Homo sapiens: one gene and its partners. The protein of the gene in region 3 interacts with the protein of the main gene of each other region in a pairwise test. Each region holds a gene or a part of one and is shown on either strand. Other genes may lie near its edges. The genes, in order: MYBPHL, SP6 and MALSU1.

Evidence for each region.
Region 1: the proteins of MALSU1 (region 3) and MYBPHL interact in binary tests that used the Homo sapiens proteins (3 or more experiments, as listed by UniProt).
Region 2: the proteins of MALSU1 (region 3) and SP6 interact in binary tests that used the Homo sapiens proteins (3 or more experiments, as listed by UniProt).

The regions. Positions count from the first base shown.
Region 1 is NC_000001.11:109,297,004-109,308,122, forward strand, and holds the start of MYBPHL (myosin-binding protein H-like), read right to left. Parts: upstream 10,009-11,119; 5' UTR 9,989-10,008; coding exon 9,844-9,988; intron 1,255-9,843; coding exon 1,166-1,254; intron 615-1,165; coding exon 419-614; intron 187-418; coding exon 47-186; intron 1-46. UniProt on the Homo sapiens protein: Myosin-binding protein which plays a role in cardiac function. Seems to regulate conduction in the atria and ventricular conduction systems.
Region 2 is NC_000017.11:47,845,497-47,857,258, reverse strand, and holds the start of SP6 (transcription factor Sp6), read left to right. Parts: upstream 1-6,095; 5' UTR 6,096-6,340; intron 6,341-8,772; 5' UTR 8,773-8,829; coding exon 8,830-9,960; 3' UTR 9,961-11,762. UniProt on the Homo sapiens protein: Promotes cell proliferation. Plays a role in tooth germ growth. Plays a role in the control of enamel mineralization. Binds the AMBN promoter.
Region 3 is NC_000007.14:23,306,528-23,313,537, reverse strand, and holds the end of MALSU1 (mitochondrial assembly of ribosomal large subunit protein 1), read right to left. Parts: intron 5,671-7,010; coding exon 5,589-5,670; intron 4,183-5,588; coding exon 3,995-4,182; 3' UTR 1,809-3,994; downstream 1-1,808. Other genes in the region: IGF2BP3 (insulin-like growth factor 2 mRNA-binding protein 3), read left to right, coding at 1-16, 690-803, 1,078-1,176. UniProt on the Homo sapiens protein: Required for normal mitochondrial ribosome function and mitochondrial translation. May play a role in ribosome biogenesis by preventing premature association of the 28S and 39S ribosomal subunits.

The DNA of each region.
Region 1 (11,119 bases), on a different chromosome or scaffold from region 3:
CCCAACATGCCCTCTTCCACCCTCCTTCCTTCCCAGCTGGCCTCACCCCGGATTTTGTGTCAGCCTTCTGCACCGTGTATCCCAGAAGTGCTGTATTCCCCGTATCTTGGGGCGGTGTCCATTCCAGTGTAGCGCTGAAGCCCCAAACGTCCACCAGCTTAATACTCTGAGGAGGGCCTGGCCTCTCTGAAAGGGCAAAGCCATGGCAGTGGGCGTGGAACATCCCACATGCATTGAAGTCACTTCAGGAGTGCCCTAGCCCCTTTTTCTCCTCAGTTACCCCTCCTGCGCCCACCCTGTGTCCCAGACATGACGTGGGAGCCTTGCCGCAGCTTCCCCAGCTCTCTGAGCTGGCTCCTCTTCAGCCTGGAGAGGGAGTTCCTGAGGACCCCCCCATCTCCCACTTCCCCCACCGTACCAATCACCAGGATGTCAATGGTGGCGGTGGCCTCCAGCCCACCCAGCTGCACGCGGAGTTGGTAGCGACCTGAGTCAGCACGTTGGGCTTCTCGGATGAAGAGGATGGAGTCTTGCTCCCCATTCCGCACACTCACACGCCTGGTGTCCAAGGCACAGCCATCATGTGTCCAGATGGCTTGAGGTTTGGGCTTGCCCTGAGGAATGAGGGTAATGCTTTGAGCAGCCCCGAGAGGCTTCCTGACTCTCCCTGCTGCTGTAGGGGTCCTGTCCACCCCAGGTCCACAGGGAGGCTTGACTTGGAGCTGCACATTCCTTGAGTTAGAAGTTGGTGGACCCTCCCGGGGGCCTCCTCCTTTCAGCAACAGCCTAAGGATCTTGGGAAAGAGGGATGGCTTTGAGTCTCCCAATCTCTGAGAGCTTAGGTCATGAACACCCGGGGCAGCTGGGACCAATTGAATAGCCACTCAAACTCCCAAGAACCCTTCTAACTGCAAGCTCTGAGGCTTCTGTAGACTGAAGGGCATGGATTAGCCTCACACCATCTCATGGGTGCACACCCAGTCCTATCCAAACCCACCTTCAGGAGTGCAGAGGTCATTTGGCCTCAGACTTCTGGTGGTGTGACCCCTTCTATCCAAGGCTGGGAAGATTGCCCCTCTGCTAGCAGGACTCTTGGTATCTGTTTCCAAATCCAAAACCTGCACTGGCCCCAGACATGGACCCAGTATGGGGCTGGCATGATCACCTGGAATGGGATTAGTAGGTTCACTGTGTCCCCAACCTTCCGGATGTAGGTCTGCCTCAGGGCCCGAGGTAGCCAGATCTTGGGGTGCTCTGAGTGATGGAAAGAGAGAGAATAGGAGATGGATACTCAGAGAAAGTAAATCCTGCATCCAGCTGCCTGCTGTGGGTGAGTGGCCCAGGAATCGGTCACCAAATTAAGCCCTTCTTAGAGGGGAGGGGAAGAGTGCTCCCATCATCCTGCTGGGATTTGGGGATGAGGGGTTGGCTTAAGGAACACCCCGGGAAACATTAAAGTCTCAGCAGAAGGAACACTGGAGTGCGAGTCTGACAGTTCTCTTAATTTGTAACTCTCAAGTACTGACTTTCCATCATCTGGAGGCATTCCATCCTGATGGAGGCATTTTTATTTTTCTGTTTGTGTACAGACCAGCCTGGTCTGTGTGGTTTGTCTTTCCACCCTTTTCTACATTTGTCCTTAATACCATTCCTTTTATCAAGGCCACTTTCCATGTCAATCCTGACCTCCCAGTTAGGTGTGGGTCTCAGGAGAATGCTCTCCATTCTGCAGGCAGAGTCAACACCCTGACCTCCCAGCCGCCCACGGAGACAACACTGATGTCACTGCAGACAGAGCACGTGTCTGGGTCCCTTCCTCTGCATGGCCACTCTGCTCCCGGGCGCCTGCACAGTCTTCTTCCAGTTTGCAGAGGATCATTTTGTACAGATTCTGGGACAGATTAGGTCCACCACTCATTTCCCTTTGATCTCACAGGTCTGTCCCAGTGAGAAGTAGAGATTAGATGATGTGTATGGGCTTCCAGGATGAAGACAGGAAATGCTTGGAAAAGTGCTGAGTGTAGGTTTGGAGATTGACCAGGTATCATTTCTCTCCTCTTGGGATGCCTCACACTGTCTCAGCTGCCGAAGCACAAACATTCCACCTGCGTTCCCTCGGGGGCCTGGCTGAGACAGACACCATTTTCTGGCCTTTTCCTGGCTGCTGTCTCCTCCTTTCTCAGGCACAGGCAGTCGCCTGGCTGATATTATCTTCAGTAGAATGTGATAGTGCTTCAGTTCCCAACAACCCAGGATTCTTGCCACAGTTCATTCTTGGCAGTTGGAAGAACTTCACCCCTGGTACATTCCTGTGGCAAACAGCATGACTGCTCGATAGTGGATTCCAGACTCTTTGATAGCACACACTTCTGTGAAAATACTTCCCTGAGCATTCACTATGACATATGTATGTTTACTTATAGATGAACTGTTTAAATACATACATTACATAACACAAACATGTAAGTGACGCAACTGAAACAGAGCTTCTTCTGTGTCCTTCCTCCAGCTCAATCAGCAAGCATTGTCCAGAGAACTTCACTCTGAGTCTCCCCATGATAATCTCAAGGTCGCGAGACCTTTGCAAATGAAGATCAATGGCAATGTACAGTGCACACGGTCCGTTTGGTTTCTGCAGTTTCCTTCTGTGCTGTGTGGCTTATGTTTTCACCTGGGCTGTGCCTGTCTTAGACTGCACCTCAGGAATATGTGACGAGGGGACTTGATGGGCCTGAGTGCCCGTCCTCCCTGCCCTGCTCAGGTCTTGACTGCCTCAGCATAGATGCAGCAGCTGCAGGCGGCTGAGTGACCCTGCTGTGGCTGCCCTCGGCTGGGCTCTGGTGGCTTGGGAGGGGCGGGACATGAAGAACAGAAGAAGCGTTTGTGTGATGGGCTTCTCTCCTGTGGCCATCTTGGCAAGCAACCAAAGAGTTGAAGACGGGCGGATATGACTTAATAGTGTTTTGAAAAAGAGGGCCGTACTTGGAAAGGAGGGTCAAAACCTCATCTTGTCAGGCTTGGTTCCCCACTGTTGGGGGAGGAAATAACCCTTTCTACATTTGCTGGGGAGAGGGCTGGAGAGAAGCTGGCTCTGCTGTCCCTGTGCCGCCTGCCTACAGAATGTCGGCATTAGGAAGGGCCTGTAAGCACCAGAACAAGGATGCTGGGAGCAAGAGGGCTCCGAGAAAGAAGCCGGTATTCTGGAGACCTCCCGGCTAGCTGTGACGACGTGCCTGGCACCAGAGACTCCTGCCTCCCCATCTAAGATTGTGTGTCTGAAGGACCCATTCTCAGAGCACTAGCTGTGTCTTGCCCACCAGTGTCCACCCAGCAATGAGCACCATAGTCAGGGCTTGGACAGTGGCCTGCCCCTGGAGGGAGGAGGCCCAGAGGGAAGGCGGGGGCTAGACATACCCAAGAACTGCAAAGGGTTGAGGTGGGGAGAGGAACCCAGGCCTTCATGCCTGACAGAAGTGCCCGCTGAGCCCCGCCCTGCTGAGACCTCAGGTAGGGAATGGGCTGTTATGGGTAGCTGTGAGCTGATGTATGTGTTTCCACCTAGTGTTTCTTTTGTTTCTTAGAAAAACACCTGGGAAAATGTTAGCATTCTTACACCTGAACTAAAGAGAAAAATGAAAGAAATGGGTTTATGTGGAACATAAGCTAAGGTGTGGGAGTTAGAGGAAGAGGAGCAGACTGGCCCTTGGATCTAGAGGGGATCCTGGCTGGGCAGAGAGCAAGGAAGGAGGCTGCCCGCGAGAGCAAGGAAGGAGGCTGCCCGCGAGGACGGCAGTCTCTCCCTCCCTGGACGGCTCCATTGCCGGTTCTCTGCTTATCAGTGGGTTTCCTGACAAGATGACGAAACTTAAGTCTCTAGAATGGACTCTGAGGATGTGTAGGTGAGGCCTCTGCTCCCAGCAGGCTCCCGGCTCCCTGTGGGAGGGCAGAGTATGGACGTGAGGCTAACTCAGCTGACTACGTGCAGAGGTGGCAGGAGAGAGTGTGGCAGCTTCAGATGCCCAGTCAGCAGGTCAGCAGCATGCTCTCCAATCGCCTCTCAACCCAACCCAGGCGCAATCTGACTCTTTGCTAAGAATGTGAACGCCGGGGCTCATTTGAGGCATCTCTTTTCACACATCCGCAGTCAAGCGAGGTGTAAATTGTACTGACCTTGGGGAGGCATGGCTTCCCCTGATGCCCAAGGTCTTTCTCCTCCTTAGATGACAGGAGGGATGTGAACCAAAGCCTAGAGTCTTTAAGAGCCTAGGTTTTCTAAGAGCAGGTCTGTGAGAGTCACAGTTTGGTTTTCTCCCTTCATGGGGTCTTAGAGAAAAGGCATCTTGAAAAGTCCTTTGAGGGCCTTTGGTTCTGAGTTAGGCTCTCTCTGTACAATGTTTCTCTCAGACAGGATGCTGTTTAATTCTTTCTAAAAAATTCTTAGAGAAAACTACTTCAGGCCGGGCGCAGTGGCTCATGCCTGTAATCCCAGCACTTTGGGAGGCTAAGGAGGGTGGATCACCTGAGGTCAGAAGTTCAAGACCAGCCTGGTCAACATGGTGAAACCCCATCTCTACTAAACATACAAAAATTAGCCAGGTGTGGTGGCGGGCACCTGTAATCCCAGCTACTTGGGAGGCTGAGGCAGGAAAATCGCTTGAACCTGGGAGGCAGAGGTTGCAGTGAGCCGAGATTGCACCATTGCGCTCCAGCCTGGGCAATAAGAACAAAACTTCATCTCAAAAAGAAAAAAAAAAAAAGAGAGAAAACTACTTCAAGTCCAAAGATCTTGACTTCTGATTAGAAAATTCCTCCTAATACCTACCCTACTTTTATCCTGCTAAAGTTTATGCCTGTTTTACTATTCTATAATTGTTCCTATCCTCTCATAATTCCCTTTTATGGGATCAGTCTTTCTCCAGAGGCTCCCTAGGGGCTGTATAGTTCAGACCGATGTTACTAACTATGACCTGGAGAGCCAAGAACCAAGATGGAAGCATTGGAGAAGTGGAGAGGGTGTGTGTGTGTTTGTATGAGTGTGTATGTATGTGTGTGTGAGTGTATGTGTGTGAATGTGTGTGTTTGTGTACGTGCATGAATGTGTGTATGGGTGTGTTTACGTGTGTCTGTGAATGGTGTGTGTATGTGTGTGTATGAGAGTGTGTGTGTGAGAGAGAGAGGGAGCCTGCATACACACGTGCCTATGTGGGTGAAGGGTTACCAAAAGAGGGCGAATGCAGGAGGCTAGCTATGGCTTTGAAACTATCCAGAGGTTTCCAGAAATCCAAGAAGTACCGGGATTTCTTAGAGAAACATTACCAGATGCCTAGGATGTGGCCTTGGTCTACTCAGAAACCTGTCTGGAGGAGTGCAATGGGAAAGGAGTGGTACAAGAGTGTCACTTTCTTGAAGGCCATGAAACTAAGGTCAGAAAAAATAAAAGGACATAGGAACAGGCAACACTTCTCTGAGGAAAAGACTCCACCCCACCCCGTCCCTATGTTACAGTCGTCCCCCTAGTGCTTGATGGTTTTAGCCCTGGCTCACTGTCTCTCCAACACCCTCTCCATGCGGTATGCCTCTCCAGGCATAACTCCTGCTGGTCCCAACACCCATGTTTCCAGTCCCCGTAGGGTCTCTCACATCTGGCCCACCACTCCTCCAATAACTTTGTCCTCTCCTAATTCAGCCAATGGTCCCTGTGGCCATTCTCTAGACCAAGAGCTACAATCCTTCTATGATCAGAATTACAAGCATCCCACTGTCTCATCACCACCTCTATAACAGAGATGGCTAACTGGCCAAAAAAAATGTATGTTACCCCTTCCGTAGCGTAGCTATCTCTGAGAAGTGGCTGCCCGGCCACCTTTTGCTGGATGGCTACGCGACCAGTTTTTGCCAATGAGACGTAAGTGGCAATGGTGAGAATCACATCTGGTCCCAGGCTTTGAAGAAGTTAGATTTCTATTTTCCTCTTCTGCTAGCTGTACACAGATGATCACGGGCCCTAAGGAATGGCAGAGCCCCAAGATGAAAGAGGCCTGGGTCCTTGGATTACCACATGGAGGAGAACTATCTGCAGAATAGTTTTTAGTTCTTACGCTAGTGAGAAATAGATGTATGTCATTCCTGAGACCTGTTTCATTCACTAGTATACCTAACTAATATAATCTTTATCCCTTTAGCTCACTTCCTCCAGTGCTCCAACACCAGCAATTCTTTGGCACCACTGAGATCTGTGATCCATTGTCCTACCACCCTCTCACTACCTAGCACCCCTTTCATGTTAGCACTTTCTTCACCACCCAACTTAGATTGCACGGTCATTATTATACTCTCTCTCTTGCACTCACTCAAATCCCTGAGTCCTCTTTGACTTCATTGCACTCTCTTGGCAATACCTAACCCTTGTTAAATAAACTTCCCACCCACTCAGTGGCTGTATCTGCACAGAGTAACAGGACTGGGGGAAAATACAAAATTATATGGAGTTTAACTTGAGGGCCATTAATAGTGACCACCACCTCCAAGTGAACTCTGGCAATTCTACTAGACTTCCCAAGTTCACTCGGTCTCCCATTGTCCTGGGTGACTATCGCACACCTTTCTCTTCTAAAACCTCCCTACCTTCTCCCTCATTCTCATTCCCAGTTGTCGATCTTGCTAGTGTCTAAGGCCCACCTACAGTCTATTCTTAACATGGCCAGCTGGAAAAATCCTTAAAATCTACACTTGGTCCTGTCAGTCCTTACTCCCAGTCCCTGCACTGGCTGGCTGGCTGTCTCGTAGACAAACCAAAGTCTTCACAGCGGCCGTGCTACCTCTCAGACTGAAATACTGCCACTGTCTCCCTCCCTGTGCTACAGCCACAATGGCCCCAACCCATAAAGCACACTCCTGCCTCAGGGTCCTTGCAGTTGTTCTCTCTGTGTGGAAAATATTCCCCCAAATATCTGCATGCATTGCTTTCTCACATCCTTTAAGTTGCTGCTCAAATGTCACCTTATTAGTGAGACCCTCACTGAATATTCCATTTGAAGCAGGAAGCCTGCATGCTTCCTACCCGAAGCACGTTCTATCCCCGTCCCTGCATTAGTTTTGGCACAGCATTTCTCACCATCTGACATATTAGATACTTTACTTGTTTATTTATTGTCTAGCTCCCTCCACTAGAATCTAACTTCCATGAGGGCAGTTATTTTTACCTATTTTGTTCATTTCTGTAATTCTGGCACCTAGAAGAGCGCCTGGCACATCATAGGCACAACCTAAATATTTGTGGAAGGAAGGAGGAGGAAAGGAAGGACGGAAGGAAGGAGGGAAGAAAGGTCACTCCTAGGCATGAGATTCAGTTTCCCATGCCTGGAAGACACAGAACAGTTCAGATTGAAAGAGAACACAGAGTCAGTTGGAGCGATGATGCTGAAGTCAGCAGATGGGCTCTTTCTCCTCCACCTCAGGGTCCCAGGGAACGCCTCTTTGCTGAGAGGCACACAGAGACCATCGTGAAGGGGAAATTGAATGCTTCTTCCAGGAGAGCTCCACTTCCGTGGAGCTCAGACTCTGAGGGGTCAGGATCTCCTATGGGAGCAGTGGGGGATTGGAGGAGGTCCTGACCCCGTGGTACTGCCCAGCAGGAGGCCGAGTGTCACATTGTCCATGGGAGGGATGCAGCTTGTTCCCCAGCCTCTCCCTGTTTTGGAAGCTCTTCTCTGGCCCCTGCCAAGCTTTGTCTCCAGGACACAGTACTCAGTGTAGTGCTGAGGACAGACATAGAACTGTTTACCAATGCTGGCCACCTACTCCTGCTTATTTAGCCATGTAGCAGGCTTGCCAAACTAAAAGCTCATTGTTGGCCATTTGCAGTTGGTTTTGATCTTGCAAATTAATTTCTATTTCTGATGCCTGCTCTAGTTCCCATGTTTTCACATGCTTCCTGTGATACTCAGTCCCAGAGCTCTCTGTAAGGAAGAGGAGTTAGGAGGAAGAAAGGCTTTGGAGCTCTCAGGGGGCTTAGGGGTCATCTAGTCCAGGCCCATGCATTGCACCCTGAAGGATCTTTGGTGGGGGTTTGGGGCTCTGTTGGCTCTCTGAACTTTTTTGTGTATTTTTCCAGGGGCAAGAGTCCACAGCTGGCATTAGATTTTCCTAGGGGTCCATATCCACCAAAAGGTTAAGACCCTGATTTGGTTCAACTCCTCAATTTACAGATGAGAAAATGGGAGTGGATTGACTTGCCTAGGGCCACAGAACAGAGCTAAGATTTGAACTCATGACTTCTTTGTTCCAAGTAGTTAACAGATGCACATATATTTTGCAAAGTATTCAAAGGTGTTCTTATTGCCAGTGACTTCTGGGATACCACTGGGTTGAGCCACTGGGTGCTAGTGGCCCTGAGGCCTGCAGTGTACAGAGCTGCTGCACACGAGAGGCTTTGGGCTGCATTTGCGGGCCCGTGACTGGGGGCTGTCAGGAGCTGGCTGCAGCCAGAGGGGAGAAGCATGGGGGAGATGAGCACTCTCCCTTGTGCTTTTGGGAAGACCAGTAGAGAGAGCTGAGGCGTCAGCAGTCCTGGCTCTCATTCTCCTGCTGCCTGTCACTTATTCTCTGGGCCTTTTAAGGGAAGAAACTGGTTTTCTGCCTCCATCACCCCAGCTTAATATATTTACACTAACTTTTGCTCCCTTCATCTTCAACGGGACAAACTTGGCCAGCTCTCTGCCCTTGACATTCAAATAGTTTCTGGAAACCTGGCCTCTCCCATGAGGATAAGAGGCAGACAGAGTCTGCTGCACAACCCTATGGAGGTAGAACGCAGCCTTCACCTCTCACTTGGAAATATTTGATCATTTATTTACATCTTAGTTTGGCCTCTTCCAAGGCACCCTGGATCATCTCAGCAATCCTTTCAACTACCCTGATAGGTAGATGTTATTAATCACCATTTTACAGAGTGAAAATGGAAACTGAGCAGTCCAGTGACTTGTCCAAGGTCACAGGGCTGTTAGAGGCGGCACTAGGAATTGAGCCTAGAGCTTTGCCTCCAAGTCTAGTATATCTTTTCCCCTGCCTCTTCCTGCCCTAGGAGTCCACGTGTTTCTTGATTGTGGTCTTTTCATCCTCTTAAGACTTTCAGGTGAGCGCCACGAAGTGGTTAGCTACAGAGGCCTCAGCCAGGGCATTCAGGGATGGGCGGCAGGAAGCTCGGGGTTGGAATTCCTCACTTGGGAACGCCTCTTTGCTGAGAGGCACACAGAGACCATCGTGAAGGGGAAATTGAATGCTTCTCCCAGGAGAGCTCCACTTCCGTGGAGCTCAGACTCTGAGGGGTCAGGATCTCCTATGGGAGCAGTGGGGGATTGGAGGAGGTCCTGACCCCGTGGTACTGCCCAGCAGGAGGCCGAGTGTCACTGTGCTGCCCCACTCTTAGCCTCCCCATTGCCATAGCATTTTATTTCCCTGTTCCTTCAGCAGACAGTCACTATCTCTTACCCCTCAGTCCCTTCCTGACTGGCCATTAGTATATCAGGTCTTCCCAGTCCCTATGACAATTTTTTAAAAGGTAAAAATATAAACAGATCATTTTTAGTCACTGTAAAGTGCCACCAACACCATCACTGACTTCTCAGCTAAAACACAAAAACTTAGCAGGGACATTTGAGCAGCAAGTTAGACTCCATCAAGGACAGGGGATGGGGGCTCTCACGAATGATCTCCAGCCTAATCACCAATCCTATAGAGTCTTTAGCTCTGCAGAAAACCTGAGGCGCCGTTCAGGAAGGTGGCGATGTCTTCCCCAACTCCCACCACCCGGCCTCCCCACCCTCCCCACCTGCCATGGGTCACCTTCTATAGGGGGCAGGAGCTGGGGAGTGGGGCTGCCAGCCCCCTGTCCAGGTGAAGCCTGGGGTGGTTCAGCATCCGCTGGGCTGGCTTCTTTCACCTTCAGCTTGGATCCTGCGGCCACCTCCGGAGCTGTGGCTGCCTCCATGCTGGGCCTTCCCAGAGGCTGAGCTCCAGCTCTAGATTTTCACTGCTGGTGATGAGGGAGGGGCTGAGCACCTGCTCCCAGGCTGGCCTCCCGGGTCCCAGCCACAGGGTTACGTAACTGGGCTGGCCCTCCCCACTCAGCTACGCCCAGCAGAAAGGCTGAAGTAGGGGTTGGGGGAGAGAGGAGGATCAGACAGCAGCCCAGAATAGCCCCAGGAGGACTGAGGTGTCCCTGTTATCTCGGGAGAGAGATGACACCCCCCACAGCACCAGGGAGGGAGAGCTTGAACACACCATCCAAAAGGGACCTCTAATTTCTGTAGGGAGGGTTGAGTGACATCTCTGCTCCTGACCTCCAGTTCATCCCGTGGGGCATTCAGGTCCCAAAGAAGGGGCCCAGGATTAGCTGACTCACAGCAACGCCTGAACTGCTCTTTCTCCCTCTGCTCCCACATTCAATGAATTGTAAAGTCTTATCAACTCGACCTTTACAGGGCCTGTCCCATCCTCCCCCGCTCCCCGGGGGCAGCGGGCACAGCGCAGTGGTAGGTGGAGACTGCACTCGCACTGGCTGCCCAGGTGCCACTTGGGGCTCTGTCACCAACTAGCTGTGTGACTCACAACACCTCACAGTCTCTCTTCAGTCTGTTTCCTCATCTGTAAAATGGAGATAATTATAACCATAGGGTCGTTGTGAGGATTAAAGAGGTAATCTCTGTAAAGTGCTTAGCAGAGTGTAGCCGACTAAGTGCTTGATAAATGTAAGCTATTTTTAGGTCAGGCCAGCACTTCCCCCTTTGAGAGCTGTCAATGGCTGCCTTGCCTATTAGATGAAGTACAAATAAAGGGAGAGGCAGCAGTGGTGGAGGGAGGCGAGCTCAGAGACCTGCGTGTGACTTCTGGCTGTACCACTCACTCACCAGCTGGGACTCTGGGCAAATGGCCGACTCGGAGTCTCAAGTCCCAGTCTATGAAACAAGGGATGATGCCATGATTGTGTTGAGGATAAAATGATACAATCTATAGGAAAGTGGCCAGCTCACAGCAGGTGCTAGTCACATACTACAGGTCCTACATGATTTCCAGACTTAGCAAACCATCTTTCTATACGTGTTGTACATGCCATGGACAC
Region 2 (11,762 bases), on a different chromosome or scaffold from region 3:
TCTGATTTTCTGTGCTGGAAGGTGGGGAGGGACAGGGAAGCCCCTCCCTGGAGCCTGCCTCAGTCCTGATGCCTGGGTTCCCCCAGGGGGTTGTGCTGGCCCTGTCCTCCCAATTTTGCCTAAGATTGAAGAAAGAGGTCCAGCTCTGCCTCCTAAGCCCTCTAATACTCTATTCTCTCCTGCTTGATGGGTGGCTTTCTGCTGAGCTTTTACCTCTTCAGGGCCTCAGTGTTCTCATCTCTGAAATGGGGAGAGGAAGGACCTGTCAGGGCCTTTATGGGATAATTGCTGAAAAGTTAATGAAGAGACTGGGAATCCCCAGTCTAGAGGTTGCTGAGGGTATAGGGGAGGAGCAGGAGAAGAGTTTTGGGTAAAGACTCCCTGGCTCATCCTGGGAGGGAGGTAGCATGTAAGTCTTGGGGTACTGGGTTCTGGTGTGTGTAGAGGGGGTACAACTGCTCCTGTCCTCTGCCAAGGGCATTGGGCTGTGGTCAAAAACAGGATGTCATCCCGTGAAAAGTCCCCAGGCCACTCTCCTATGTGGGTCAGAGTTCACAGCTTCAGTGAGCTTTGGGAAACAAGTCTTACTCTTCTGTTTCATCTCCGTTCTCCTTCCTGGTCTTTTGTCCATCTCTGCCCTGGGACATGTTTGTGTTAGCCAGTATACCTAAACTTACAACCACCCTAAAATTAGGCTCATATAAATAGAGATCTGGGGGCTCCCCCTAAATTCACCTTCAGGCCCCTTCTCCCTTTTCCAGGCCACCTTCCTACCCTCTTCACCCTCCTGGAGTTCCAGGAGTCCTGAACTGTCTGTAGCAGTTCTTGGCTGGACTCTGCCTCTGGTCTTTCTGGTCTTAGGTGACCTCTTGTCCATCCTAAGCTTCCCCACTCCATCCAAAGTCAGGGAAAAGGTCCTCCCTTCCCATTTGACAATGAGAGATCCCAGGTCCAAAAGATAGATTACACTGGGTCCTCTTGGGGGATCCAAGTTGGGAAGTGAGTATGTAAAAAGAGGATGAAAAGGGAGCGAGAGAAATTGTGGCTCAGAGAGGCCAACAACACTGACATGAAGCTCTGCAAGGAGGAACTGACTTGAAGACGTGTGGTGTGTGTGTGTTTGTTGGGGGCATGAGCCCTTCAGGTCTCAAAAATGGAACTTCTTTCTCTCTTACCAAGTCCATGGAGGAAAACTCAGGAAGAGGGGATGGAATTTGGAGAGTTCCAGCTATCCCAGCTCTCCACCCTAGCAATGCTGTCATTTCCTCCATCCTGCAAGAACCACTTTGTCCCTCTCCCACTGCCCAGCCAACTCTGCGGAAGGAAGGAAGTGCCCCCAGCCCCCACTCCCAGCTGAAATCCTCCTTTCCTGGCAGACCTCACGGACTCAGATCTCACCTCCTACCACTCCCCTAGGAGAGCTGGGGGCCACTGTTTCCTGGATTATCCTAAAAGCTTCTGAGGCCGTGAGGACTTGGCAGCATCCCTGCTCCCTCCTTCACCTCCCCCTTTGGCACTGCCTGTCACCTCCTTTATAAAGCCTGGCTCTTTTATCACCGCCACTTGGCCCTCACTGCCGCCGCCAGCTCTGGGCTCCATGGACTGGTAAGAGAGGCTGTTCCCTGTCCAGTACAGGGGACCTCCACAAAGAGGATCAGGTCTCCACTCTAAAGTGGGGGTCATAGAGAAGGGTCTGGTTCTCTCTGAATTGGGAAGGGGGAGATAAGAGGGAGATCTTGGTGGGGTTTGCATGGAGAACTAAAGGGATCCCTTGGAGGTCTTTTGACTGGGCTGGGGTAGTCAGCCCAGTGGAGAAGTGGGGTAGGGATTCATAGCTGGGAACTTTATTTCGAGAGAAAGGAAGGGCAAATAAATGTTAATAGAAATACAGGGCACACACACTCACTGCCCTGAATGACAGAACACCTGCAAGGATAGTAAGGGAGAAACCACTATCCACATCCTATGGGGAACTGCATTTACGGTGGAGGAGAGAAGACACCCTACACTCAAGCCCACAGGTACACACAGGCATAATATGTACACACATTTGTAGATATACACACACCGACATACAGATGCACTATCCTCAGGTGGGTTCATCTTCTAGACTGAAAAGCGATGGTGGTAGCTAGGGATTTTGAAATTTATAATAAAATTAGTGTCCAGCATTGTGCTTGGCCTTAAGTAGACCCTCGATAAGTGTTTGTTGAATGAAATAAAGGATGAATGAAAGAAAACTATTTGACCCCAGCTTTAGGCTCTATCTGGTTTTCTAAGAATCAGGAGAGTATGGTGGGGAGAGGAGGGGAAATAAGGAATATGTTGGCATCCAGGGTCATCAGCTTGCAGGCTTGGAAGTGCAGCCCGAAGGTGGGAGTGGGAAATGGAGGAGAGGAGTGAGTGAGAAGAGGAAAACAGGACCAGACTCTGGTCTGGTCCCAGCTCTGCTTCTAACTTGCTACTAACGTCCCTGTTTTGGGGTTTGGTTTCCCTACCAGTAAAACGAGGGCTTGGACGAGACAATTTGGGGCTAGACCAGCTTTGATATTCTCATAGTGCAATCTCTACAGGACAGTTGAAGTTTGGAAGGGATCACAAGTGTAGAGTCTGACTTGTCTCAGCAATTCAAGATGGGATCAGTTTGTCCATTAGACTCAAGATAGGAGATGGCTTTGATCTAGGGATTCATTTAAGAATGCTGTTTCCTCCACCTTCAGGCTCTAGGGGAGCCAGACTTCCAGGGTCATCAATTCTGCCATATTGAGGCCAGATGGACTAGTAGGCAGAATACAGGCTTTGGAACCTGAGAGATCTGAACTCAGTTTCTTCTTCTGTCTTTTAACAACTCTGTAATCTTGGGTAGATCATTTAACTTCTTTGATCTTTGGCTTCCTCATCTGTACAACGGGAATAATAATAATTACTTTGCTGCATGCCCATGAGAATTAGAGATATTTGTGTAAAGCATCTGGAACATAGTAGGTGCTCAGTAAATAAATGCCGTTTGTGATAAACACGCAGACTAATGAGATTTCTCCAGGTACAAAGTGGATCACTGACTATAGATGAAGCTTGAGAAGAAGAGGGGTGGCAGGAATGGGGGTTGGACACTTGCAGGGGAAATCTGACTATTTATTTGAGAGAATGAGGAAGAGCAGCAGAAATGGCCCAAGTCCAAGACAGATCTCAGTTTATACAGGAGATGTGATGGGCTGTGTTGTTCAATTTTGAGTAGCAATAAGTATATGGGCAATGGGCTGTGGTGACCTTGCTCATTAAGTTAACATCAGACCATGCGCCGTCATTCGGTGGGAAAACATTTAGCAAGTGGGAAACCAAAAGGGCTGGAAGCAGAGGACTGCAAGTAGAGGGGGACTGGAGGAAAGATAGTGCCAGTACCCTGAGTGAGCAGCAGAAACCTAGGCAGAGCAGGAAATCAGAATGGCTGGGAGTTTCCAGAGACAACTGCATTGTTGTTGAATTTCCTGCTGATGAGCTGCAGGCAGATGGAGGGTCTTTGCTGGTGGAATTCCAGATGGCTACAGGTCTGGTTGGATCGGGGCAGGGCTAAAGGGGGCCTAGAGTGAAAGTAGCAGGGAGTGTCTACCATCCTCGGGCTGAATCCCTGTTGCTTTCCAGGGAAAAGGCAGAAGGGGCCAGGAAGAGAAGGCAATCTGATGCCTATAAATGGGAGGGGAACTTGGTCCCCTACCCAGAGTCAGACCCCTGCACAGGCTTTAGCACCTTAGGAACAGTAGATGCAGCACCAGCAGGCAGCTTGGAGGAGGAGGCAGGAATGCCCAGAGGTCAAATCAGGAACCAGAGTCCCCCACTGGGGGCTCTGTTTTGGACCTGATGAGTGTCTACTCCATTCCAGAGGTAGCTGTGAACTAGGATACAAACCCAACTGGCCAGGATTTGTAGGCTGAATGGATGGAGACAAAGCTGCGTTGATGAAGAGGATTGATTGTCAAATTAGCCATGGCCACAAAGATCCAGAGCAGTTCCTGTGAATCCACATCCAGAGCCCCAAGTAACAAGAAGGCAAAAAGCAAACCCCGACTGATCAGAAATCTCAATCCCCCGATGTCAGGCGGCATCTCCGGCTTCCAAATACCTGTCACTTCTCTAGCTTGGTGGCTGCTTTTACAGCATTTCACCAAGGAAGAAACTGAGGCTTAGAGGCACCTGACCTGCCAGGGTCAGTTTAGCAAGTGCAGGGCTGGGGCTAGAATTTAAATCCGTCAACTTCTAGTCCACAGGTCTTTGTGCATACACCTTAATCCAACCAATATTTACCTGGAACTGACTTATTTAATAATTATAACAAGGATATCTTCCATTTACCCGGCGCTTACCAGGGGCCCCTTGGGCTAAGCATTTTTAGGCATATCAATTCCTTTAAGCCCCCAGGAGACCCTACCAATGTGTACCCAGGTTGTCCGGATGAGGGAAATGAGCCTTAGAAAAGAGGGAGATGCACAGATGAATCCGACGTCGATTCTGGATAAGAACGTGTGCGTGTCTGAGGGGTACCATGCACATACGCATACACACATGGATTGATTTTCACCCCGCTTATGCACTCGGTTTAGCTATTTTTGAGTTACAGTTTGAGTGTGTCCCAAACGGGCATGCAGGACAGGTAAACCAATGGCGGGGGGGAGTAGGGGCTGTAGAGGCGAGATTAAATCAGCCTAAATTCAAGTATGAAATCGACTGTAAAGAGGAAAACGAAATTTTAAAAAGCCGACGGCAAAGCGCACAGAGGAGACGAATCTGAAAAATGAAAGAAATAGGGAAATTAATCTGCATTCCCCTGTGAAAAAAGGGGTCACATGGAGAGATCAACACTGCGGCATGGGAGTGAAGCATGGGGCCACCTCAGCGGCCAGGCAGAAGAATGCGTGGGTGGAGGACGGAACTTCCCTACCCACCGGTGCTTTGCGGGTCTCGGAAATGTCGACCCATCCAGATCTTGAGGGAAGTTTTTGTGAGCTCCGCGAGCGCGCTGAAATTTTACCAGAATATTGCACTGGGCATGTGAATTTTTCTCAAAGGAATCCAAGACCCCTCCCCAAAGTTAAGAACCTTGGGTTTAGTTATTCTGGTGAGAATTAGAAAGGAATGGTGGCAAGGGATAGCTCAATTCCTTCCAGAAGTGTCCCTTCCCAGGGCCATTCAGGCGCCTGCCCATTCTTCAGAACCGGGTGCTCGGGGGCGAGGGTGTGCGTAGGCTGAGCATTTCCCGAAGGACAGGAGGGCGAGGAGAGGCGAATTTGAGAGGTGGATTTCTTAGGCACTGGGGTTGCTACCTAAGGGGAGGGGCAGAGTGACAGCTGCTGGGACCTGGGACCAGAGTAGGGGGGAAGCAGAGACCGGTGGTGGGCAGAGGCTGGGAGAGGGGAGGAGAGGAGGTGGTCACCCAGAAAGGTCAGAGAGGGATACCCCGGAAGGGAGAGGGAAAAAAGGACGGGGAAGGGTGGTGGTGGAGAGAAGCGGCGCGGGGTGCGGGGGGTGAGGCAGGGCAGGGGACGGGGGTCGGGGGTCGGGGGAATGGCGAAGGAGGGCAGCCAAGACAAATTTCACACGGCCTAGGCCTAGAGGCGAACTGGAAACATACTTGGCGCTCAATCTTGTTTCCTTCTTTCCTCCCAGTTCCGGGGCAGGGCTGTCCGTTCAGAGAGGGTCAAGGGCCATCGAGGCAACCTAAGGGTTGCTGCCTAAGGGTGGCTCTGTCTCACCCCCAGGACCTGCCCCCTTATCCATTCCCCCTGGGTCTTAGTCCTGCGTCCTCTGCTAGACCGAGCTAGCTCCAGGGCAGTTTTCCACCCGGCGGGGCGGGTCTTAGAACCTGGGAATCACCCCACCCGGGCCCCTCTCCCTGGGAGTGGAGGGGACCAGGGAGGAGCGAGGGAGCGGGCGGCGCACGCCCTAGTTATCTTTCCTCCCCCACTCCCGCCCACCCCCTCCTCGCGGCCCTGGCTGGGCTCCGGTCCAGCCGAGCCCTCAAGGGTTAAAGGCGGCCGCAGGTGAGGTGGGCGGGGCCGCGAGTCCGGGGGAAAAAGCAGCGCTGGGGAGAGGATGAAGGCAGAGAGCGCGGGTGAGTCACGGGCGGAGCTGGCCTTGTTCGCTCGCTGGCTCCTGCCCGCCCTCCGTCCTCCGCCCTCTCGCCAGCGCTCACCTCCGCCGCCTGCCGCCTGCCGCCAGCCGCCGGGTCTGGCTCGCCCTGGGCTCCTGCCCCTTACCGCTGGAGAGCTCGCCGGCGCACAGGGCCTATGAGCGACCGTCAGTAGCGCACCAGCCAGCCGTGCCCGGAGCCCGCCGCAGCCTCGAGGTAGGAGCGCGGGTCGGGGTGGCCAGGGGTGAGCGCTACGGAGATTGTCTCGAAAAAACGCACTCCGAACGCGCCCCAGCCTCCTATGGCCTTGGGAGCGGGGTGGTCCTAAAGGATCTGAGAGGTTAGAACCCCGATGGAGGGAAAACTGGGCGGACGGGAGAGACTGGAGGGACCGAGGAGGCTGGAAACCGGGGCAACTGGAGCGACTGGGACAACCAGAGGACCGGGACATTGAGAACTGGGAGTACTAGCCGGTGATCCAGAGAGGCAGAGCCGAATGGGGCATAAGGGTGCACCGACTTGCCTTCCCACTTCGGGGAGCGAGAAGCCTGCGATGTACGCTGTGCTCTCTCCTTTCCTGAACTCTTTCTAGGCCTGGAAGTGAACCGGACACATACTTGGCACTCAATCCTGTTCCCTTCTTTCCTCTCAGCTCTGGGGCAGGTGGGTCAAGGACCATAGAGGCAACCTAAGGGTTGCCACCTAAGGGTGGCTCCATATCACCCCCAAGACCTGCCCCCTCCTCTATTCTCCTGGGTCTTAGTCTTGCATCTTCTGCTAGACTGAGCCAGCTCCAGGGCAGTTTTCCACCCAGTGGGACTGGTCTTAGAACCTGAGAATCACCCCGCTTTGGGTTTCTGAAATCTTGGTAGCAGGCCATTGCATCCCAGGCCTGGGCTCTCCAGCTCTCTGCCAGGAGAAGCCACTCTGGAGCCCAGATTATCCTAGCCTTCCCATCCTCCAGCCCCTGGGGCAGTTCCCAGGCACCAAAAGCTGTTAGGGTCCCTGGCTTCACAGCTCCCGCTCAGCCCCTTCTGTGCTGCCCCACCCCGGCCTGGGGCTCCTTTCCTGCAACTTCACCCTGTTTTCCTCTTGTGGTGAGGCAGCCGGAGCCTGAGTAGGTGCCCCCGTCCTCCTCTCCCTCCCTCTCCCAGGCTATCAGTGCCACCTCCCTGGTCCCAGAGGCAGGAGATGGTAGGGTCAGCTAAGCCCTGCTGTAGGAAGGAAACAATCCTGCCCTAAGTCACTGGTCTCCTCCCCCACCAGTAGAGAAGACCCAGGCACACAAACCTGCCCAGCTGAGGCACCAGGGCTTCCAGGCCTTAGGGAGAGGTGGTGAGAAAAGAGTGAACTTCAAGCCACAGATATGTGGTTGAGAAAGCGTTGGGGGTCTTTAGCGTTCTAAGGGTCTACAGAAAGATTGGTTTACAGAAAGTAACAGACTGAGAGTCCAGGAGTTAGGAGACCTGGTTTATTGAATGAATAAATGAACATCCTTGTCCAAGTCACTGTGCCAAGTCATTCAGTCTGCTTCCTTCTCTTCAAAATAAGAAGATTGGCCTGGAGCAGTGGTTCTCAACATTTGCTGCATATAAGAATCTTCTGGTGGTGGTGGGGAGCTTCTGAAAAATGATCCATGCCTAGGATGCACTTGCTTATGTCATCTTTTTGGGCAATTCTTGCTCTTAGGTTCTGTGGTTATGACTTCTCTTGTTGCCCTCCTCTTCCTGCACTCTGACCTTGTATCACTTAAAGGGGTGCAATTGTATCTTCCAGAGCTTGCTGTCAAGCTCTTCTCTGGGGAAGCCATTCCCTCCCAACTTTCTATCTGGGCCTCCCCTAGCATGGAGAGGAAGATGGGTAGCAGTCAGAGAGTTGCCTGGCACTGGTATGAGTCAAGAGAGGGATGGAAATTTGGTTTTCTCTGGTGGGGGTATCTCCCAGATTCCAGGGGTATCTGGTGGCCAGAAAGCTGCTCCCCAGGGAGGTGAAGTCCCTGCTTGAGGGAAGGGGGTGGGGGCATGTGAGTCGGTTTAGTGGGCCCGATGTGACCAGGCCAGGCGGGGAGCAGCGTAGACGGTGAAATGCTTTTCATTACTGAACATGCTTTGGGAATGGCATGAGAACTCTTTCAAAGACTCAGGACCCGTTTGAGGCTTTATGAGGGGCAGGTCACCTGAAGCTTTGGGTTTCAGAAATAGACCATCCCCTCTCCCATCTGTATCCTGAGTTAAACTGGGGAAGCTGAGATGTGTCTAGATCCTCCATTTGGGCTGACAGCAGGTCTGCAGGGGGAAAATGCCACTGCCCCTTGTGTTGGCCTGGGCAGCTGGGGTGGGGATGGTTCTAGCACTGTGCTGTAGGTGTATCTGACCTACCATCCTGGGAGTGGCCCAACTCTAGGGATGAGCTGGGTCATACGGCAGGGATCACCCAGAGGAAGGTAGACCTCCATCATCCTCTGTGCTTGGATGAGAACCTCACATCTTGGACCCTTCCTCGCACTCCCGAATTCTCTAAACTCATCTCTAGTCCTCGTTCAGAGGTGCATCCTTCTTTTACACCTGGGGCCAGAGAGGAGGACCTGGGTTAGGAGGGAAAGTGAGCTGGTTATTTCCCTTACTTTTCTGCTTCTTCGCCTCCTTTAGGTCCCGTCTGAGGTGCCCCTGACCGTCCCTGCCCTCACCCCACCCCGGATCCCGGCAATGCTAACCGCTGTCTGCGGCTCTCTGGGCAGCCAGCACACGGAAGCGCCGCACGCCTCCCCGCCGCGCCTCGACCTGCAGCCTCTCCAAACTTACCAGGGCCACACGAGCCCTGAGGCCGGGGACTACCCCTCCCCGCTGCAGCCTGGAGAGCTGCAGAGCCTCCCGCTGGGCCCGGAGGTGGACTTCTCGCAGGGCTATGAGCTGCCAGGGGCCTCCTCGCGGGTAACCTGCGAGGACCTGGAAAGCGACAGTCCCTTGGCCCCGGGCCCCTTTTCCAAGCTCCTGCAGCCGGACATGTCACACCATTATGAATCGTGGTTCAGGCCGACTCACCCAGGCGCGGAGGATGGCTCGTGGTGGGACCTTCATCCGGGCACCAGCTGGATGGACCTCCCCCACACTCAGGGCGCGCTGACCTCACCTGGCCACCCGGGGGCGCTTCAGGCGGGCTTGGGGGGCTACGTCGGAGACCACCAGCTTTGTGCCCCGCCACCCCACCCGCATGCGCACCACCTCCTTCCAGCTGCCGGAGGGCAGCATCTCCTAGGGCCGCCCGACGGGGCTAAGGCCTTGGAAGTAGCCGCCCCGGAGTCTCAAGGGCTGGATTCCAGCCTGGACGGGGCGGCGCGTCCCAAAGGCTCCCGGCGGTCGGTGCCCCGCAGCTCAGGCCAGACCGTCTGTCGCTGCCCCAACTGTCTGGAGGCGGAGCGACTGGGGGCTCCATGTGGGCCCGATGGGGGCAAGAAGAAGCATTTGCACAACTGCCACATCCCGGGCTGCGGGAAAGCCTACGCCAAGACGTCGCACCTGAAGGCGCACCTGCGCTGGCACAGCGGCGACCGTCCCTTCGTGTGCAACTGGCTCTTCTGCGGCAAGCGCTTCACGCGCTCGGACGAGCTGCAGCGCCACCTCCAGACCCACACCGGCACCAAGAAGTTCCCCTGTGCAGTCTGCAGCCGCGTCTTCATGCGCAGCGACCACCTGGCCAAGCACATGAAAACCCACGAGGGCGCCAAGGAGGAGGCGGCTGGGGCGGCCTCGGGAGAGGGCAAGGCCGGCGGCGCAGTGGAGCCCCCCGGGGGCAAAGGCAAACGCGAGGCCGAGGGCAGCGTGGCTCCCTCCAACTGAGCTCCTCAGTGCCGCCTCCCTGCGGGTATCCCGGGGGGCACTGGATGCGAGCCCCCAGGTCTGACGTCCTTGGGGGTGGCTTGAGGAAGAGGGGAAGGTGCGTATTTATTCAGGGAGGAGGAAAAGTGGTGCAGGGACAGGGAGATGGGGCGCTAGGGGTTCTTAGTCTCTGGGGCTACTAGGCAGGATGAATTTGACTGGGTCGGTAGGAGCTGCGCAATGCCCCTCTGTTCTCCCCTGCCTCACAGTTTCCCTCGCCCCTGGGCTGGGGGGTTGGGGTGGGACACCCGTACCGCGGCTGGCTGGCGGGGACAGGCTAGAGGAGACAGCAAGTCCCAGTCCCCGGAGCAGAGAGAAGTGGGGCCGGCCCGGGGCGCTGGTGGTGGCTGTCTGGACACGTCCTTAGCGCCTGGGAACCAGGACATAAAAGCGCCTCCGGAGCCGCCCTGCGGCGGGGTCCCTTTCATCCCACTTAAAGTGCTTCTGCCCCTAGGGTTTCCGGAGGGAGAGCCGAGATGGGATGGGGGAGCCTGGGGGTCCCCCTTGGCAGGGGTGTCTCTTTCTGGTTTGGAGGGTTGTTGCTGTAAAAATAACTCCTTTGATGAGCTTCCTTATTAACCCTTTCAGACCCAGTCTGTTGGAGCCATGAAGGAAGAGGGAAAGAGGGCTGCCATTCCTGACAGCCTCCCAGCCAGGGCTGGCGATAAAGGACCGAGATAGATGGAGGGGGCGAGTAGGGAAGTCCTCTTCTAAAATGAGAGATAGGGATTTGGTGGGGTATGGAAGGAACTAACCCCTTCCCTCTCCACCTCTGATTCAGCCCTTAATTCTTGGTCTATGATAAATAAAGTTCAGTAGTCTCACATTCCCCATCTATTACCCTAGGTGTGTTTTCAAGGCAGCCAGCGGTAGAATCCATGTAGTTCCCACCAGTTGCCTTCCCCTCAGGGATGGAAGGAAGAGGGTTTCTTGGGCTGGTTGAGGGCAGATTGGGGGTGTCTCATCAGAGGGACCTCCACTGGTTCCCACTCAGAGTGGAGGCCTGCAGCCTACCTGACCATCTCTTTAGCTGTCACCAAGAAAATAAACCCCACTGTCTCTCTAGCTTGGCCCTTGTCTTTCCCTTGCCCCTGCCATAGCATGTTCATTAGGGGATTCCTTCCTCCCCCTCATCTCACAGGGGAAGGGAGAGGAAAGAGTTGTTCTCCCACTGGAAGGGGTTCTGCCTTCTGAGGTGACATCCAGGAAGCTGTCCCCATTCCCTTCTCCTTTAGATGCTAGAAACACATTTTGATTCTGATCATGGGGTGGGGGAGAGAGGAAAGGAGGGAGGGGAGAAGCCCAGCAGAAGCTGAGCCAGGCAGAGGGGAAAGAAGCTGATATGAGGAAGGGTCTGACAGGCCACAGCCCTTGCAGCCGGAGGGCTTTCCCACACTCAAGAGAGGGGCCTTACAGTCCCTCTGACACCCCTCCCCCTTCCCCTCGCTCCCTTTCTTCACCCGGAGCCCTCTGCAGAGATTAGCTGTGTATTGATTTTTAAGTTATAAGCAAAGGGTATTTTATTTAATATTAGGTTATGTGTGTGCATGTTGTGTGTACCTGTGTGCATGTATGTGTGTTTCTCTACTGAGCCTGGGGTCTCTAGCCAGGGAGACCCCATCTTATTCACCATGTCCAAGATCCTGGGATCTGGGCCCAGCATCTCTTCCTCCTTTGTAGATGCTGGAGCCCAGCCAAGGTCTGGGAGCTATATGGGAAGTGGGGGCTGGGATCTGGGTGGGAATATGTGTTTGTATACAAAG
Region 3 (7,010 bases):
AAAAGGAGGCAAAACGGCAAGTACTTCAGCAAAACCTGTGCAGTGGTATGAAAGGGAAAGCGTTGAAAGGTACTTAGGAGTTCCAAGTCCCCGAATTTTGGCTAATTTATAAAAAGCAGGACCATCTTGACCAAGGTTTGGAGAAGATTGCCTTTTGTTTCCTGTCTGAGTGTTGGTGCCAGCTATTAGTGAAAGTAATGCATCTCTTTCAGATCACTTTGTGTGAGAGGATTGTCCTATATTTATAAAGGGCATTTAACGTTCTCCTGATAAAACTTTAGCTTTTTATGGAACAGACACTTAACAGGAATTTTAAAAATTTCATCTACAGCTTGTTACATCTGTAATGGAAAAAAAGCAAACTGTTTCTAGTCTCTAATACATATAACTTGTAAGTGGGTTTCAAAGCTATTTATAATTTTGAAGTGATTGAGTACATACACTTTGGAATCAGACTCAGGATTTGAATCTGGTTTTGCCATTCACTTGTATAACTGGACAAATCAGTTTCTTTGGATGAGCCTTAATCATCTTGAAGTGGGGATAATTCTAATAACCTCATGGAATTACCACTGGATTAAATGAAATTTGTAAAGCCATACATAGCTCACTGTCTGGCGCACAGTAAGTGCTTAGGAAGTAAGGTTTTAAAACTGCCACTTAATGTGATTTATATTTATCTCTTTCAGGTGAATGAACTTCAGAATTTGTCAAGTGCAGAAGTTGTTGTCCCTCGTGACCAGACACCTGATGAGAATGACCAAGTGGTTGTCAAAATAACTGGTCACTTCTATGCTTGCCAGGCAAGTGGGCTCTAAAATAAGCTATTGTATCTTTCTCACGTGGAAGCAATTCTCCCACAGGTGCTCCTACCTGATAGAATTAGTTAAGGTTGTTTGATGCTTAAGACTTTTCATCTCCCTTTTAGCGGGTGATTTCAGAGACTACTAGCAAACTGACTAGTATGTATCTTTAATCATCAAATGGATTTCTATTTGAAATTGTTGAAATGAAGGAGTACAATAACTTTTAGTAGCTTTTGATCAAGTGGAATTTCAAAGCTCTGTCCTTTTCTAGGTTGCCCAGAGAAAAATTCAGGAAATTCTGACTCAGGTAAAGCAGCACCAACAACAGAAGGCTCTGCAAAGTGGACCACCTCAGTCAAGACGGAAGTAAAGGCTCAGGAAACAGCCCACCACAGAGGCAGATGCCAAACCAAAGACAGATTGCTTAACCAACAGATGGGCGCTGACCCCCTATCCAGAATCACATGCACAAGTTTTTACCTAGCCAGTTGTTTCTGAGGACCAGGCAACTTTTGAACTCCTGTCTCTGTGAGAATGTATACTTTATGCTCTCTGAAATGTATGACACCCAGCTTTAAAACAAACAAACAAACAAACAAAAAAAGGGTGGGGGAGGGAGGGAAAGAGAAGAGCTCTGCACTTCCCTTTGTTGTAGTCTCACAGTATAACAGATATTCTAATTCTTCTTAATATTCCCCCATAATGCCAGAAATTGGCTTAATGATGCTTTCACTAAATTCATCAAATAGATTGCTCCTAAATCCAATTGTTAAAATTGGATCAGAATAATTATCACAGGAACTTAAATGTTAAGCCATTAGCATAGAAAAACTGTTCTCAGTTTTATTTTTACCTAACACTAACATGAGTAACCTAAGGGAAGTGCTGAATGGTGTTGGCAGGGGTATTAAACGTGCATTTTTACTCAACTACCTCAGGTATTCAGTAATACAATGAAAAGCAAAATTGTTCCTTTTTTTTGAAAATTTTATATACTTTATAATGATAGAAGTCCAACCGTTTTTTAAAAAATAAATTTAAAATTTAACAGCAATCAGCTAACAGGCAAATTAAGATTTTTACTTCTGGCTGGTGACAGTAAAGCTGGAAAATTAATTTCAGGGTTTTTTGAGGCTTTTGACACAGTTATTAGTTAAATCAAATGTTCAAAAATACGGAGCAGTGCCTAGTATCTGGAGAGCAGCACTACCATTTATTCTTTCATTTATAGTTGGGAAAGTTTTTGACGGTACTAACAAAGTGGTCGCAGGAGATTTTGGAACGGCTGGTTTAAATGGCTTCAGGAGACTTCAGTTTTTTGTTTAGCTACATGATTGAATGCATAATAAATGCTTTGTGCTTCTGACTATCAATACCTAAAGAAAGTGCATCAGTGAAGAGATGCAAGACTTTCAACTGACTGGCAAAAAGCAAGCTTTAGCTTGTCTTATAGGATGCTTAGTTTGCCACTACACTTCAGACCAATGGGACAGTCATAGATGGTGTGACAGTGTTTAAACGCAACAAAAGGCTACATTTCCATGGGGCCAGCACTGTCATGAGCCTCACTAAGCTATTTTGAAGATTTTTAAGCACTGATAAATTAAAAAAAAAAAATTAGACTCCACCTTAAGTAGTAAAGTATAACAGGATTTCTGTATACTGTGCAATCAGTTCTTTGAAAAAAAAGTCAAAAGATAGAGAATACAAGAAAAGTTTTTGGGATATAATTTGAATGACTGTGAAAACATATGACCTTTGATAACGAACTCATTTGCTCACTCCTTGACAGCAAAGCCCAGTACGTACAATTGTGTTGGGTGTGGGTGGTCTCCAAGGCCACGCTGCTCTCTGAATTGATTTTTTGAGTTTTGTTTGTAAGATGATCACAGTCATGTTACACTGATCTAAAGGACATATATATAACCCTTTAAAAAAAAAATCACTGCCTCATTCTTATTTCAAGATGAATTTCTATACAGACTAGATGTTTTTCTGAAGATCAATTAGACATTTTGAAAATGATTTAAAGTGTTTTCCTTAATGTTCTCTGAAAACAAGTTTCTTTTGTAGTTTTAACCAAAAAAGTGCCCTTTTTGTCACTGGATTCTCCTAGCATTCATGATTTTTTTTTCATACAATGAATTAAAATTGCTAAAATCATGGACTGGCTTTCTGGTTGGATTTCAGGTAAGATGTGTTTAAGGCCAGAGCTTTTCTCAGTATTTGATTTTTTTCCCCAATATTTGATTTTTTAAAAATATACACATAGGTGCTGCATTTATATCTGCTGGTTTAAATTCTGTCATATTTCACTTCTAGCCTTTTAGTATGGCAAATCATATTTTACTTTTACTTAAGCATTTGTAATTTGGAGTATCTGGTACTAGCTAAGAAATAATTCTATAATTGAGTTTTGTACTCACCATATATGGATCATTCCTCATGTATAATGTGCCCCAAATGCAGCTTCATTTTCCAGATACCTTGACGCAGAATAAATTTTTTCATCATTTAGGTGCAGCTTGTTGTGTAGTATGTTTTATTTTTGGTTTTCAATTGAATGGGAATGTTCTGAATTTTTTTTCAAACTCTACGCAGATTTCTGTTATACCATGTCCAGCCATGGTACTTAATGTGAACCTTGATAATACTCTTGCATATGAACTAAGAACTAGAGCGTTCAGAGTTTTTCCTAACAAACACTTTGTTTACTTTCTTGTGTTACTGGAGTATTCTGGAAGGGTTACAGAAGTCCTCCTAGAAGAATATTATCACCTCAAAGTATAAAAATAAGACCAGTGGGCTATGTTTTATATTATTTTTTAAAATTTTTGCCATTCCATTAAACAAACAGGGTTAAGATTTACATTTAAGCTAAATTAAATTAATAAAAATCTGAGCAGAGAAGTCAAGCACAGGAGCCAGTGCTAACTCCAGGAAATTCTGATGACATTTCCAGGATAAAGGCAGCGTGTCATAAGTTTTGGGTAGAATGTACTGATTTTTGGTTGCAGGTATAGCTCACTTATCGACAGTCTCTGCATGCCAGTTAGCAGGAGTGCCCATGAGGTACACAAGCCTTGTCCTAAGAGCAGCCTAACCAAGGAGACGGACTTTAGGAGCTGTATTTTCCAATAAGTGACTCAATCCAAATCTGAAATGACTAACGCAGTGCATAAAATATTTTATTCACATTTTAACTCCACTGGAGTCACAGATGAAGTATCATCTTCTATTCCAAGAATGAAGTCTTCAGGTACTGTCTCAGGTGCTATCTGAGCTAACTGGTCATCATAAGAACGTAGGGTCCATAATTTCTCTAATTCATAGATTTCTCTGGTTTCTGGAAGCATCAAATGAATCACCATGCTGCCTGTCAGGGACAGATAAGAGATACAATGAAGGAATAGTTCATTTGCTTTTATTCTTACCTTACAACACACACTGGCTAACTCTAGGAATAAAGCAGTGGTTCTCAAGTGTGGTTCCCAGATTAGCATCACTGTGGACTCCATCCCAGCAAAAATACCACAGAAGTGATGCTATGCCTTTCTCAGTGTACCTACAGGAGGCATATGTCAATATATAACATTGCTGGTGATAGTAACTTTATCAAAGAGACTAATGGTGTCAGGATTCTCTTCGGTGACAATTCTCCATGGGTAACACACTTCTGCACATCTTTTGTGCAAAAACACTGACTGCCTTTTGTTTTGACTATCCAAGAATGTTTGTATCGTGAATATTCTTAACAGAAAGATACTGCCTCCCTCCAGGGCAAAGGGCAGCTTTGCTTACAGCAGCATTTCTCAATTAGGTAATAATGGTAATGTTTAGAGTCATTTTTGATTGTCACAATTGGAGAAGGGAGGATACTGCTAAACATCGTACCGTGCACAAGAGACACCCCTCCCCCACATGCAAAATTACCTGGTCCAAAACGTTAATAGCGACAAAAGTGAGAAACCATCAGAGCAAAAGTAGGCCTGCTTCCTGCCAGTTATAAAAAACCTAGACACCCTCATCTGAGTTCCAGTTTTACAACTGTGTGTGCTGGTGTCATCTGGCCCATGTTGCCCTATGGAATCCAGAGCTCAGGAAACCAGTGCAAAATGGATGCTGGCTACTGCTGTGAGTAATAAACTGTTCTTTGTCTCTAACCCTCTAATAGTCTTGTCTTTTACCAGTGTCCATGAAAACTGGCGGGACAATGTATTAGCTTACAAGCAGAATAAAATCTCAGACTCCTCAGTTCTTGACATACAGTTATGTTTCCCCTTTGTAAATATTATCTTGTTGGGAGGTGCTTTGAAACTATGTACACATTAATACCCAAAGTTGTTAGATCTTTTCAAAATTCTAGTCTTCTGCTCTTGTCCTTTTTTGTGCCTGGAATAACCTCATCCTCATCTCATTTATGCACCACAGCCCCCAAACCTTCCTCTACCACTACTAAGGAATCTCTCCCGCCTCTACTATGTTATCCTGTTGTCCACCACCTTCCTGATCTGTGTGGCTAGTAGATACACACCATGTAGTATATATCTTCCTCCAGGAGGGCATCATCTAGGGTACTTTGGTTTGGTTAGGTGAAAATTCTACATGTGAATAAGACCACCTGGATTATAACTAAAAAAACTTTTGTTACCTTAAACACACTTCAAAAATCTTACCTGGAAATACATTCATCAATTTGATCTCAATCCTTTTGCAACTGAAAACAATTCAAGATTAGCGTAGTACCAACAGTTACCTGTAAAATACGCCAGAATAACTTACCAAAATCCACGCACAGCCAGTCATCAGTGTCCTTCCCTTCTATCTTAACATGAGGGTCACGTTTACATTTCAGGTGTTTGTACTGCAAAAAGCCAGGTGGTTTATTAAAGGGAGAGGGGATGGGGGAAGCCTGTTCTTGCTGAAGGTCTTTTTTTTTTGTTTGTTTGTTTGTTTTTTTTAATCTTTCTTACTCATTTCTCATTGCTATACTTTGCCCTGTGATGAATAACTTAGGGAAACTATTTCTCCCTCTAAATCTTATTCACTTTCACCTCTCTCCTGAATTCTCCTGCCCCAGCCCTTCTGAGAGGGTCACCCCATTCATTCACCAAGGTGCCTCTGAGGCTGAAAAAGCTAAGCTCAGTCAGCATTTGGTACCCACCTACATCCATCACTTGTGTTCATCCCAGCTTTCCTTCACCTTTAGGGGCTGCAGATACTACCTTCTGTTTATAAAGCCAGGTTGTTTCAGTGCCACTGATTTCATCTCATCTGCCTTTATGACATGTTAATGGGACCCCGTCATCCTATAAATGTGCTCAGTTCTTTTGTTAAAACAGATATACTAATATCAAACAAGATGGCAATTAAGTAAAAACTGTTACAAGAGACAAAGGACATCTCATATACATCACCCCAAAATCAAAGGAAATGATAATTAGGGCAGGAAAAAGACAAAATCAATGAAACTAGGATTTGGTTCTTAGAATGACTAAGAAAAAAGACAACTAAAATCTGAAATGAAAGAAGTGACACTACTGATTTTAGAGAAATGGGATTGTAAGAGTATTATGAGCAACTGTACACCAAACAACTGGGTAACCTAGACGAAATAGCAAAATTTCTAGAAACACAATCTACTGACTGAATCATGCAGAAATATAAAGTTTCAATAGACCATAACTAGTATGGGGACTGGATCAGTAATCAAAAATCTCCCAACAAAAGTCCTAGACCAGATGGCTTCCCTGATGAGTTTTACCAAATATTTAAACAAGAATGCAATACTCAAATTCTCCCCAAAAAATTGAAGAACAGGGAACACTTCCTAACTCATTCCATAAGACCAATAACCCTGATGAACATTTGATGCAAAAATCCTCAACAAAAATACTAGCAAACCAAACTCAGCACCATATTAAAAGGATTATAGACCATGACCAAGTGGGATTTATCCCTGGAATGCAAGGTGGTTCAACATATAAAAACGGATCAATGCAATAACACCACATTAACAGAATGAAGAAAAAATCTATATGATAATCTGAACTGACGCAGAAAAAGCATTTAACAAAATTCAATACCCTTTCACAATAAAGCACTCAACAAAGTGGGCATAAAAGGAAATTACCTCAACATAATAAGGGCCATGTGAGAAAAGCACACAGCTAATATATTCAATGGTGAGACTGAAAGCTTTCC